Linked DNA regions of Homo sapiens: region 1 is reported to be linked to region 2. Evidence: microRNA targets listed by miRTarBase, many of them from high-throughput screens and not tested one by one. Region 2 holds a microRNA gene; the other region holds the end of a gene's coding sequence. Distances are from middle to middle.

The links. The annotated mature microRNA hsa-miR-6751-3p reads ACUGAGCCUCUCUCUCUCCAG and lies in region 2 at 3,689-3,709, shown strand. An mRNA with a match to its seed (bases 2 to 7 or 8) in the 3' UTR can be bound and repressed. Matches are read on the target gene's strand: a 7mer-m8 pairs with bases 2 to 8, a 7mer-A1 pairs with bases 2 to 7 and ends in A, and an 8mer does both.
Region 1: miRTarBase lists PATE2 as a target of hsa-miR-6751-3p. Seed matches in the 3' UTR shown: 7mer-A1 at 4,465-4,471.

What each region holds. Positions count from the first base shown.
Region 1 is chr11:125,772,646-125,778,172 of GRCh38, forward strand. PATE2 (prostate and testis expressed 2) reads right to left here. Exons shown (of 4, transcript NM_212555.3): 3 at 5,229-5,357; 4 at 3,468-4,873. The coding sequence ends at 4,737. Among named protein-coding and RNA genes, the nearest start is that of PATE2, 3.4 kb to the right of the region's middle.
Region 2 is chr11:65,128,625-65,133,624 of GRCh38, reverse strand. It overlaps MIR6751 (microRNA 6751), which reads left to right and starts at 3,647; the gene lies at 3,647-3,709. It overlaps SYVN1 (synoviolin 1), which reads left to right. Exons shown (of 16, transcript NM_172230.3): 2 at 7-155; 3 at 373-465; 4 at 551-703; 5 at 845-893; 6 at 1,274-1,377; 7 at 2,029-2,155; 8 at 2,252-2,351; 9 at 2,428-2,493; 10 at 2,589-2,705; 11 at 2,802-2,965; 12 at 3,246-3,374; 13 at 3,450-3,623; 14 at 3,710-3,896; 15 at 4,911-5,000. The coding sequence starts at 24. RefSeq lists a silencer at 327-503 and an enhancer at 1,226-1,275.

The sequences.
Region 1 (5,527 bases), 61 Mb from region 2:
GTACGGGCAGATCCTGGGAAAGTCAGGCATTATCCTGTAAGACATTTTTGTGGTCTTTCCATGCTGTTCTAGCAAGAAGACTGCTATCTTCCTGCATGGTCATTGGGACAAAAGAAAAATTTCAGGGCTTAAGGAGTTAAGTATACCAATCCAGATATCCCCATTATCCCAAGTCTCAGAGTCACACTCCTTCCTTATGAGGGCCCTGACTTTGGCTCAGGAGACTTGTCTGGGCTAAGAATTTCATTCTCTCTAAAGTTCTCCAACCCTTACAGTTGAATGCCTTGCCTCATTATCAGCTGCAAGAAATGAAGGTATTTCTAAATGCTGCCAAGAAAGGCCTCTGACTCACACTTTGCTCTAAATTTTTGGATTAATAAATACGAGCCTGCTATTTTCTGTCTTTGGTGCTCCAATCATGCTTAGCAACAGCCATCCAATGCCACAATCCTTATCATCACTATCATCTCTGCATTTCTCAGAGTCAGAGATACCCACAAGCAAATTCATCTTCCACCTCTTCTAAGTCCAAGTTCACCACAATTGAAAGTTTTAACAATCACACTGCTACCACATATCAGCAACGGTCAGTACTCCAAATACCACCATAGGGTACTCATTGACATTTAGCCAGTTGAACAATCCAATGCAATATTCCTTATTATGGCCTGCTTTTTGTGACCACTCCTGTTACCAACTGTCTTTGGCCAGGTTCCACAGAAGCAGAACTTGAGAAGAGGATTCTGATGCAAATAATGCAGTGAGGAAGTGCTCTCAGGAGAAAACTATAAGGGAATGAGGCAAACGGTACAATGGGGTGATGCTTGAAGAAGATGTGATTCAGGTGAAGTCAGGCTTTGTCCAAAAGATAACTCTGGAACATAAATGACACTATACCCAGCCCCAACTTGTGCAAGTTAACCTCCCTTTTATTCACACATATCAGTCAACCATTGGCTGTGGGTCACCCTTGGGGAGAGGGCAAACCTTCCAGTCATTTCAAGTGAGAAGCTCCTCCTGTCTGAGAGCAATGCTCAGAAGAGTGCGGCCATGAGTTGTTAGCGGGAAAGAAGCAGAGTTTCTCAAGGGCTGGGCTGTCAGTAGCTGACTGCTTAGTCATAATTCAATAGGGATTTAATAACGTGGAGGACAGTGAGAGAGTACATTTTTATGTAACTTTGTAAGAAGTAAGAACAAATTCATAATGTGTTAAAGTTATAACAATGGTTGCTAGATAAAGCAGAGGATGGCTACACACAGAAGGAAAGGAGACAGCTAGGCTCGACCATGCTTGCTTGTGTCTTCCAAGCCTCCTTCTAAAGTGATCTGTGAGGGCCACAGCCCCTGTGTAGCCATGTCCTCCACAACACAACCACATGGCCTTTCGCACTACAGCAGGCACCTGAGGCAAGTGCAGACAAATGTGTAGACTAGCAATGGATCTACGAAAGTAACAACAAATAATGAGCTGGGACAATCAGATCATTTCTCCCATTTTTTTCAATTATTTATTTATGCATTCATCTTGTATTCATGGTAATTTATTTTAACCTTTGGGCTCATTTATTTTGTCATTCAAATTGATCCAGTTTGGGCCATGGGGAGATCTCTCTGTTTGTTCCTATTTCCCTCTGATATACTCCCTCAGATTTACAGGCTCATCTTCTCTTCATTTAATTTCCTGCCCCAGTCCTACAATCAGCCATTTCTCCAAGGACTTCTGATTTCTTTTTTTTTTTTGAGAATGGTATTAGAAACCACAGTCTGGGTGCTAGGGGTACTCATTACTATTGTTATTGTTATTTGACAGAGCAAGGAAATATATGTATGTATAATAACTCATAAATATACATATTTATAAATATTTCTTTTATATACATATTTATAAATAATCTGTATTTATATTTAACTAAATATGAATTCATACTGATGTCTAATTCATTACCTCATTGATCATTCTAGCACCTTTCTCTTGCTTATCTGTAACTTCTAACTCCAACAGTGAGAAACCTGGATTCCCCCAGCCCCCATTCATTTGCTTAGGAGTTCAATTACAGTGTACCTGTAGAGCAGTATCAGAATTATTAACCTATAACCTTGGGGAAAACAATTTTATCAAGTAGAGTGCAGAGCTTGTGTACATTTTCTTTTGCCTTTAAGCTTACAGGCTCCACTCATTTACAAAGTTACTCAGATCAGAAACTTTTCCCCCAACTCAACTCAGAGAGATTGTTTCACACATTTGTAACAGTTACATCATTTTTGTCACATTGTGCATTCCTTCCTGGAATCCTCTGACTTCCTAAATGATTTTTCTTTTAATTCTCATACATTGTTTCATTCTTTGTGCAGTAAAGTTCTATGGGGTTTGACAAGTGCATAGTGTCATGTATTTACTGGTATAGTATCATACAGAATAGATTCATCACCCTAAAAAATCTTTTATACTTTACCTATTCAATCCCTTTTTTCCTCTTAATCCACTGGCAGTCATTGATATTTTCACCAACCCTATACTTTGGTCTTTTACAAAATTGGAATCAGAGTACACATGTTCCCAGACTTACAATGATTTGACTTACAAGTTTTTTAAACTTTAAGATGTGTGAAAGCAATAAGCATTCAGTAGAAGCCATACTTTAGTACCCATACAAGCATTCTGTTTTTTACTTTCAGTAGAGTAGTCAATAAATTACATGAAATACTCAATTACATGAGATACTCAAAGCCAATTATAAAATTGGCTTTGTGTTAGATGCTTTTGCCCAACTATAGGCTAATGTAAACATCCTGAGCACATTTAAGGTAGGCTAGGCTAAGCTATGATGTTTGGAAGGTTAAGTGTTTTAAATGCATTTTCAGTTCACAGTATTTTCAACTTGCAATTGTTATAACAGGATATAACCCCATCATAAGTTGAGGAGCATCTGTATGTAGCCTTTTCAGACTGGCTTCATTAACTTAGCAATATTCATTTAAAAATGTATCCATGTCCTTTCATAGCTTGATAGATCATTTCTTTTCATCATTGAGTAGCATCCCACTGTTTGGATGTACCATAGATTACATATCCATTCACTTATTGATGGGCATCTTTATTGCTTCTAGTCTCAGGCAATTATGAATAAATATGATTTTAACATTTGTGTGCAGGTTTCTGTGTGGGCATAACTGTTCAAATTGGTTGAGTAAATATCTAAAGGCATGATTACTGAATGACATAGCAAGAGTATAATCACCTCTCTAAGAAACTACCAACTGTCTTCCAAAACAGCATTACCATTTTGCATTCCTGCCAGCAATAAATGAGATTTCCTATTGCTCTATATCTTTGACAAAAATTGCTACTGTGAGGGTTTTTTATTTTTTTGATTTTGACCATTTAAAATGTATAGTTGCGTAATATTGTTGTTTTAATTTGCAATTCCCTAGTGAGATATGATGTTAAGCATATTTTCATATGCTCATTTACTATCTGTATATCTTTTTCTATTCAGATTTTTTGGCCAATTTTTCTGGCCTTTATTTATTTATTTATTTTTTTATTTTACTTTAAGTTCTGGGATACATGAAAGAAAGTGCAGCATGCAGGTTTGTTACATAGGTATACATGTGCCATGGTGGTTTGCTGCACCCATCAACCCGTCATCTAGGGTGCAGTCAGCCTTATAAGGACAGAAACACCAGGGTTAGTGTGTATCCAAGGAAAATGTGCCACCTTGGCCACAGGTGTGCTCCAACATCAATGCTACTCAGTTTCTCTTCCTATCTGTTTCTGTGTCTTCCTTCTTCTCTTCCCACCACTGTTACCCATATATGCTACCTTTCTCACACTTTCTGCAAACTCATAACTTCCTCTTACACAGGGCACTCTGTTACTTGAACACTACCTCATGGTATCTATTTACATCCTATTATCTTCAACTACTACACCACCTGCCACATTATCAGCATTTTGTTTGCTCAGTCCCATGAGAAGAACCTGACTAGCCATCCTTAAAAAAACACTCTGTTCCCAATCCAATCACCTAGTTCAACCATGTGCCCAAGGCTGCCTGGCCAGCCAGGGCAATGATAATTCAAGCCAATTCCACCCACAGCAAGTTATTTCTCAGATCTTAGTTTTTACCAGTTGAAATGCCCCCTGAAGTTTTCTTTGATGCTCATCCCTATGTCTGTTCAGTTTTTTTTTTTCTGCCCTGAGGTTCCCCCAAGAGCTCTATCAGAGAAAGACTTGGCCCATGCTGCCAACACACTGGGAAGCTGGGGTTAGCCCTCTCCAGAACCCACGGGCAGAAAAGGACAGTGCCAGAAAGTGTCAGGGCTAATCCAAAGAGAATTCCAACGGAGAGGAGTGTGTGTGTAGATGAGGATAGAGGATAGTCACAGAATTCTCAGTACAAATTGGAGATTATTATGGCCCAAGTGTTCACATTTTCATACAGGAGATAATAAATGACCAAGTCTGAGCTTATTCATGGCAGTATCACGTAAGGAGAGCAAAACCCCTCCCACCTGTTAGCGACAGGGATGTGCAAAGAGTGAGTCTAGTGCTCCATCATCAATAGGCTCCGCTGTCCACACTGCGTCTCCTTATGCCTGCTTGTCTTTTCACTATGAGCTGGCTTTCTCACTCTCTACCAATGCATAGAAGAGGAGAGCAAAATTCAGGTTCAGGGAAGAGAAAAAGAGCGTAGTGGTTGAAAAAGAACCCAAAATCCAGGAGAGACGTAGAACTAAACTCCCTCAGGGAGGTTGCAGTAGTTACTATGATCACAACAGATGAGCTCTACCCTCTTCGTGAACCCCAGGAAGTTGATGTCCTCACAGCTGGTCATACACGACAGTTTTGAATAATGATACATGCTCTGCCCTGAGGAGGTAAAAGAGAGGAAATATGATCATAATGACCTCATTTCCTTTTACTGCGTTCCTAGGAGTAATCTGTTTTTGTGTCCTCACTAACCTTTCTCTAGGCCCAAATGAGTTCCAAAGCTGAGTCTGTTAATTGCTGACCCAGAGAGTAGATTTTATTCCCTGCCAGGTAAGGGACATCAGCCTCTTTTTCACTCAATATGGTCTTAGGGAAAAGTCTGTCTTTGCCATCCCCTCAAGACCACCCCATACTCACCCATCCCATTCACCTACTCACGCTGAGGGCAAAAGAACACTACTGTTTCTCAGGGATGGTGGTGGTGATTTTCCAGTCACTCTATACTCCACATTACCTTTCCTTGTAAGGATGTAAAAGTTCTCAACTGCACAGGACTGTTTATGCTTCAGGGAGCAGGATGTCATGACACCATAGCATAACCCAAGATGATATTTTTTACATTCATAACACATTATTTCAGTCGCTGCCAGATACAAAAAGAGGTGCTTAGAGGATGCAGTCTTGAGAATATTCTCTGGGGCTGGGGGCTTCACTACAGGACCTTATTCTTGCCTAGTGGTTCCTAACATTTTTTGGACCATGGACTCTTGGTAATCTTGAGAAAGATAGGGATAATCATGCTGCGGTCCTCCC
Region 2 (5,000 bases):
ATGCAGGTCTCCGGGCCAGGGCAATGTTCCGCACGGCAGTGATGATGGCGGCCAGCCTGGCGCTGACCGGGGCTGTGGTGGCTCACGCCTACTACCTCAAACACCAGTTCTACCCCACTGTGGTGTACCTGACCAAGTCCAGCCCCAGCATGGCAGTGAGTTCAGGGCTCAGGGAGGGAGGAACTCCCTGGGAGGGAAGGAGGAGTCTGCCTGGGCAAGGGGCGGGGCTAGAGGTCAGGTAAGTAGGGAAGTAGCCGCCAGCTGCCTAACTTTGAATAAACTGTGATGAGGATGTGGAGGATCCTGCATGATGAGTCCCAAGGAGAGGAAAGCAGAAAGTGACCTCAAACCACAGCCTCTCCCCACTCCTAGGTCCTGTACATCCAGGCCTTTGTCCTTGTCTTCCTTCTGGGCAAGGTGATGGGCAAGGTGTTCTTTGGGCAACTGAGGGCAGCAGAGATGGAGGTAAGATGTCGGCTGCCCCAAAGGTGAGGGCAGGGTGCTGGGAAAGAATGTTTGGTATCCACATTATTCCCTGCCTGGCCCCCAGCACCTTCTGGAACGTTCCTGGTACGCCGTCACAGAGACTTGTCTGGCCTTCACCGTTTTTCGGGATGACTTCAGCCCCCGCTTTGTTGCACTCTTCACTCTTCTTCTCTTCCTCAAATGTTTCCACTGGCTGGCTGAGGACCGTGTGGACTTTGTGAGTCAAGGCAGGGAGTTCTGGAGCAGGTGGAAGCCAGGGAGTAGCCAGCGGGCAGGCTTAAGGAGCAGGGAGGGCTAGGTTGAGGGTGTGGGGTGAGCCCCAGGCCTCCTGACAGGCCTCTTCTGTGCTCTGCCTCAGATGGAACGCAGCCCCAACATCTCCTGGCTCTTTCACTGCCGCATTGTCTGTGAGTGAGATTCAGGGGAGGGGAAGGGAGGACTGGAACGTGAACCGTGGACCTGTACTCCAGAGCACAGGCTACCCCCCACAGCTGTACAGGAAAGATAATTTAGGAAGTTAATTTGCATAGTCTCTGTGCTGTTCCACTCTAGGGCTTCTCAACTGCCTGGGCCCTCAGCCCTTTGCCTTCTCACCTGCAGCCTGGGCAGCCCCAACAACTCCCCCTCCCCCAGGAAGTTCCCAGAGGGCCAGGTTCAGTGGAGTGTGCCCACCTGACTAGATCGCTGGGGCCATGGTGGGCTTGAGGGTGGGGCTGTCCTAGAGCATTAAACAGCTGTTGGGCCCTGGGCTGACCCCCCCACCCTGCATGTGTGGGGGTCCCCACAGCTCTTATGTTCCTCCTGGGCATCCTGGACTTCCTCTTCGTCAGCCACGCCTATCACAGCATCCTGACCCGTGGGGCCTCTGTGCAGCTGGTGTTTGGCTTTGAGGTAAAACTGGCTTGGGAGGTTGAGAGGACAAGCCCGAGGTGACCCCACATGTGCCTTGAATAACCCAACAGACCCTTCCTCAGCACCTGCTATGTGGCCAACCTGTGCTGGCCACCAAGGGGCAGTGATCAGATATGGCTCCTGCCCTCCACACGCTCACTCCTAGGTGACTGGGGAGACGCACAAAGAGGCTAGGACAGAGGAGGAGCCCCAACCTGGGGCTCAGGAGAGGGTTCCTGGAGGCTCGTGCCGGAGCTAGCTGGTAATGGACAGGAGAGGATTAGTTCCATGGACAACTGGAGGCGTGTCCCTGGCAGAGAGAGAATGTGTTCAGTGACAACAGCTCATATTTGTTGAGTGCGAATTTCACACCAGGCCCTATGCTGAGCTCCTGACCTGCATCTCTTATTCAGCAAGACAATACTGTTATAAAGGAACAGTTAATTATGTCATTTTATAGATAAGTAAACTGAGGTTCACTGAGTTGCCAAAAGTCACAGCTAGTAAGTGGAGGGGCTAGGAGGACCCTGGGTGTGTCTAGAGCCTGTGATTGTACCACTGCACCTGCTGTGCAGAGGCCTTGGGGAGCAATGTGGGTGCAGCAAGGGGGAGCTATGTGTTTACATCCCCCTCGTCCCCCTCTCCCTTCAGTATGCCATCCTGATGACGATGGTGCTCACCATCTTCATCAAGTATGTGCTGCACTCCGTGGACCTCCAGAGTGAGAACCCCTGGGACAACAAGGCTGTGTACATGCTCTACACAGAGCTGTTTACAGGTGAGAGGGGCCTGGGCCTCTCCTGATCTGGACCAGCATCCTCCACTCTGCCTCCTGGCCCTGTGACCTGCTGCTTTCTGCATCCCCTCCCCTCAGGCTTCATCAAGGTTCTGCTGTACATGGCCTTCATGACCATCATGATCAAGGTGCACACCTTCCCACTCTTTGCCATCCGGCCCATGTACCTGGCCATGAGGTGAGCCCGGCCCTGTCCCCCGATCCTCCTGACCTGATCCCGTCCCTTCTCCTGCTTTCACTGACTGTCCTTTCAGACAGTTCAAGAAAGCTGTGACAGATGCCATCATGTCTCGCCGAGCCATCCGCAACATGAACACCCTGTAAGTAGGCTTGTCATGGCTGCTGTCCCAAGCTCGGTCCTGGGTCCCTCTGCTTCCAGCTCTGGACCTGATACAGCCCCTGTCATCCTAACCAGGTATCCAGATGCCACCCCAGAGGAGCTCCAGGCAATGGACAATGTCTGCATCATCTGCCGAGAAGAGATGGTGACTGGTGCCAAGAGACTGCCCTGCAACCACATTTTCCATACCAGGTGGGAGGGGCCCTGGGGAGCCTGCACAGCAGGGCACAGGCCCCAGAAGGCAGGCCCCTAGGGACCTGCTGACCTCTGCCTGGCCTTGACCCGCAGCTGCCTGCGCTCCTGGTTCCAGCGGCAGCAGACCTGCCCCACCTGCCGTATGGATGTCCTTCGTGCATCGCTGCCAGCGCAGTCACCACCACCCCCGGAGCCTGCGGATCAGGGGCCACCCCCTGCCCCCCACCCCCCACCACTCTTGCCTCAGCCCCCCAACTGTGAGTATCCCCTTGTCTGGCCACCCGGCATACCACTGGATACTTGCCCTGGGCTGGATGTGGAAGATGCTGGGAAATTGGAGAGTCCCTGCCCTCCAGAATCTCAGTCTGGGCCAGGGAGGGATTAAAAGATGAGAAATAGATGCTTGCAGTCAGTGTGACCAGTGCTGGGCTGAGGGCCTGTGGGAATAGGACAGAGCTCTCAATAGCCAGGCCCCCTGCCTGGGAGTTGGGTCTGTGTCCATTTGGCCCTTTCCTTACCTCCGTCTTCTCTCTGCAGTCCCCCAGGGCCTCCTGCCTCCTTTTCCTCCAGGCATGTTCCCACTGTGGCCCCCCATGGGCCCCTTTCCACCTGTCCCGCCTCCCCCCAGCTCAGGAGAGGCTGTGGCTCCTCCATCCACCAGTGCAGGTGAGCCTTTGGGTACTGTGACAGCCAGGGGGCGGCAGGGATGGAACACTCACTGACTTCGTTCCTGCTCTTCAGCAGCCCTTTCTCGGCCCAGTGGAGCAGCTACAACCACAGCTGCTGGCACCAGTGCTACTGCTGCTTCTGCCACAGCATCTGGCCCAGGCTCTGGCTCTGCCCCAGAGGCTGGCCCTGCCCCTGGTTTCCCCTTCCCTCCTCCCTGGATGGGTATGCCCCTGCCTCCACCCTTTGGTAAGCTGGGCCACTCTCTGGGTTCTTCTTGGGGGTGAGGTTGGTGTCTGGCCCCAGCAGCCCAGACTGAGCCTCTCTCTCTCCAGCCTTCCCCCCAATGCCTGTGCCCCCTGCGGGCTTTGCTGGGCTGACCCCAGAGGAGCTACGAGCTCTGGAGGGCCATGAGCGGCAGCACCTGGAGGCCCGGCTGCAGAGCCTGCGTAACATCCACACACTGCTGGACGCCGCCATGCTGCAGATCAACCAGTACCTCACCGTGCTGGCCTCCTTGGGGTGTGTCTGTACAGGGGAAGCAGAGTGGGTTTGGTGGGTCAGGAGTGGAGCTGCCAAGAGGTCCCCAGCAGTGGTTCTTGGCCTTTGACACCTGCCAATTCAGGCTGCCTATCTACAGGCCCACCAAGGGTCTCCAGGAGTTCTTGGTAACTCCTGGTGCCTTTATTTCCCACTCCAGAAAGCATGTCTGGATCTAAGTAGGAGTGATGTTTATTCGAGAGCTGACTTTAGATCTTATTCCTTTATATTTTTCTAAAGTCAAATTATTCAGAATTTGCAGTGCTTTAGTTCATCACATGATATTCTTCTGAGATGTGGTGACACTTAGATTGGCAATTGCTGCCCCCAAACTGAGGGAGCGAATAATAGGAAGTCACTTGGAGCCATCCTGGCTCAAGTTCAAGCGCTGGTCCCATCACTCATTTTTGACCTCTCATTATTTGAATAAAGGGGTCTTAATTCATATTCATAAGTGATGTGTACTGCCAGATACACACCTATAATCAGCACTTTGGAAGGCTGAGGCAGGAGGATTGTTTGAGCCTAGGAATTTGAGGGTGCAGTGAGCTATGATTGTGCCACTAAATTCCAGCTTTGGTGACAGAGCCGAGACGCTGTCTTTTAAAAAAGTGACATGTACATAATGCCTGGCATCTAGCAGTGACAGCACAGGCTTGGAGAGGAACTTGAGTCCAAGGCTCGAGCACTGTGGCTTATTGAGTGAGTCCCCTATAAGGTGCCTGACTCCCCAGGGTGGAGACTGCAGGGTAAGAGTGAACAGGTCAACAGTCCCTGCCTGCAAGCACCTTACAGCTAAGGGATAGAATCATTTGGCCCTTGAGTCCAGTCACCCTGTCTGAGTTCATTCAGCATGTTCACTTGTGTTTGCCAGGCACTGGGGCCACAAGGGCACATCATTCTATACTCTGTTCTGCAAGGCTCACCAAGGGCAGGAGAATCTGCCCAACCTTGGATGCCAAGGCCAGGCCCGCCTCTCGTCCCTTCTCTTCCCAGGCCCCCCCGGCCTGCCACTTCAGTCAACTCCACTGAGGAGACTGCCACTACAGTTGTTGCTGCTGCCTCCTCCACCAGCATCCCTAGCTC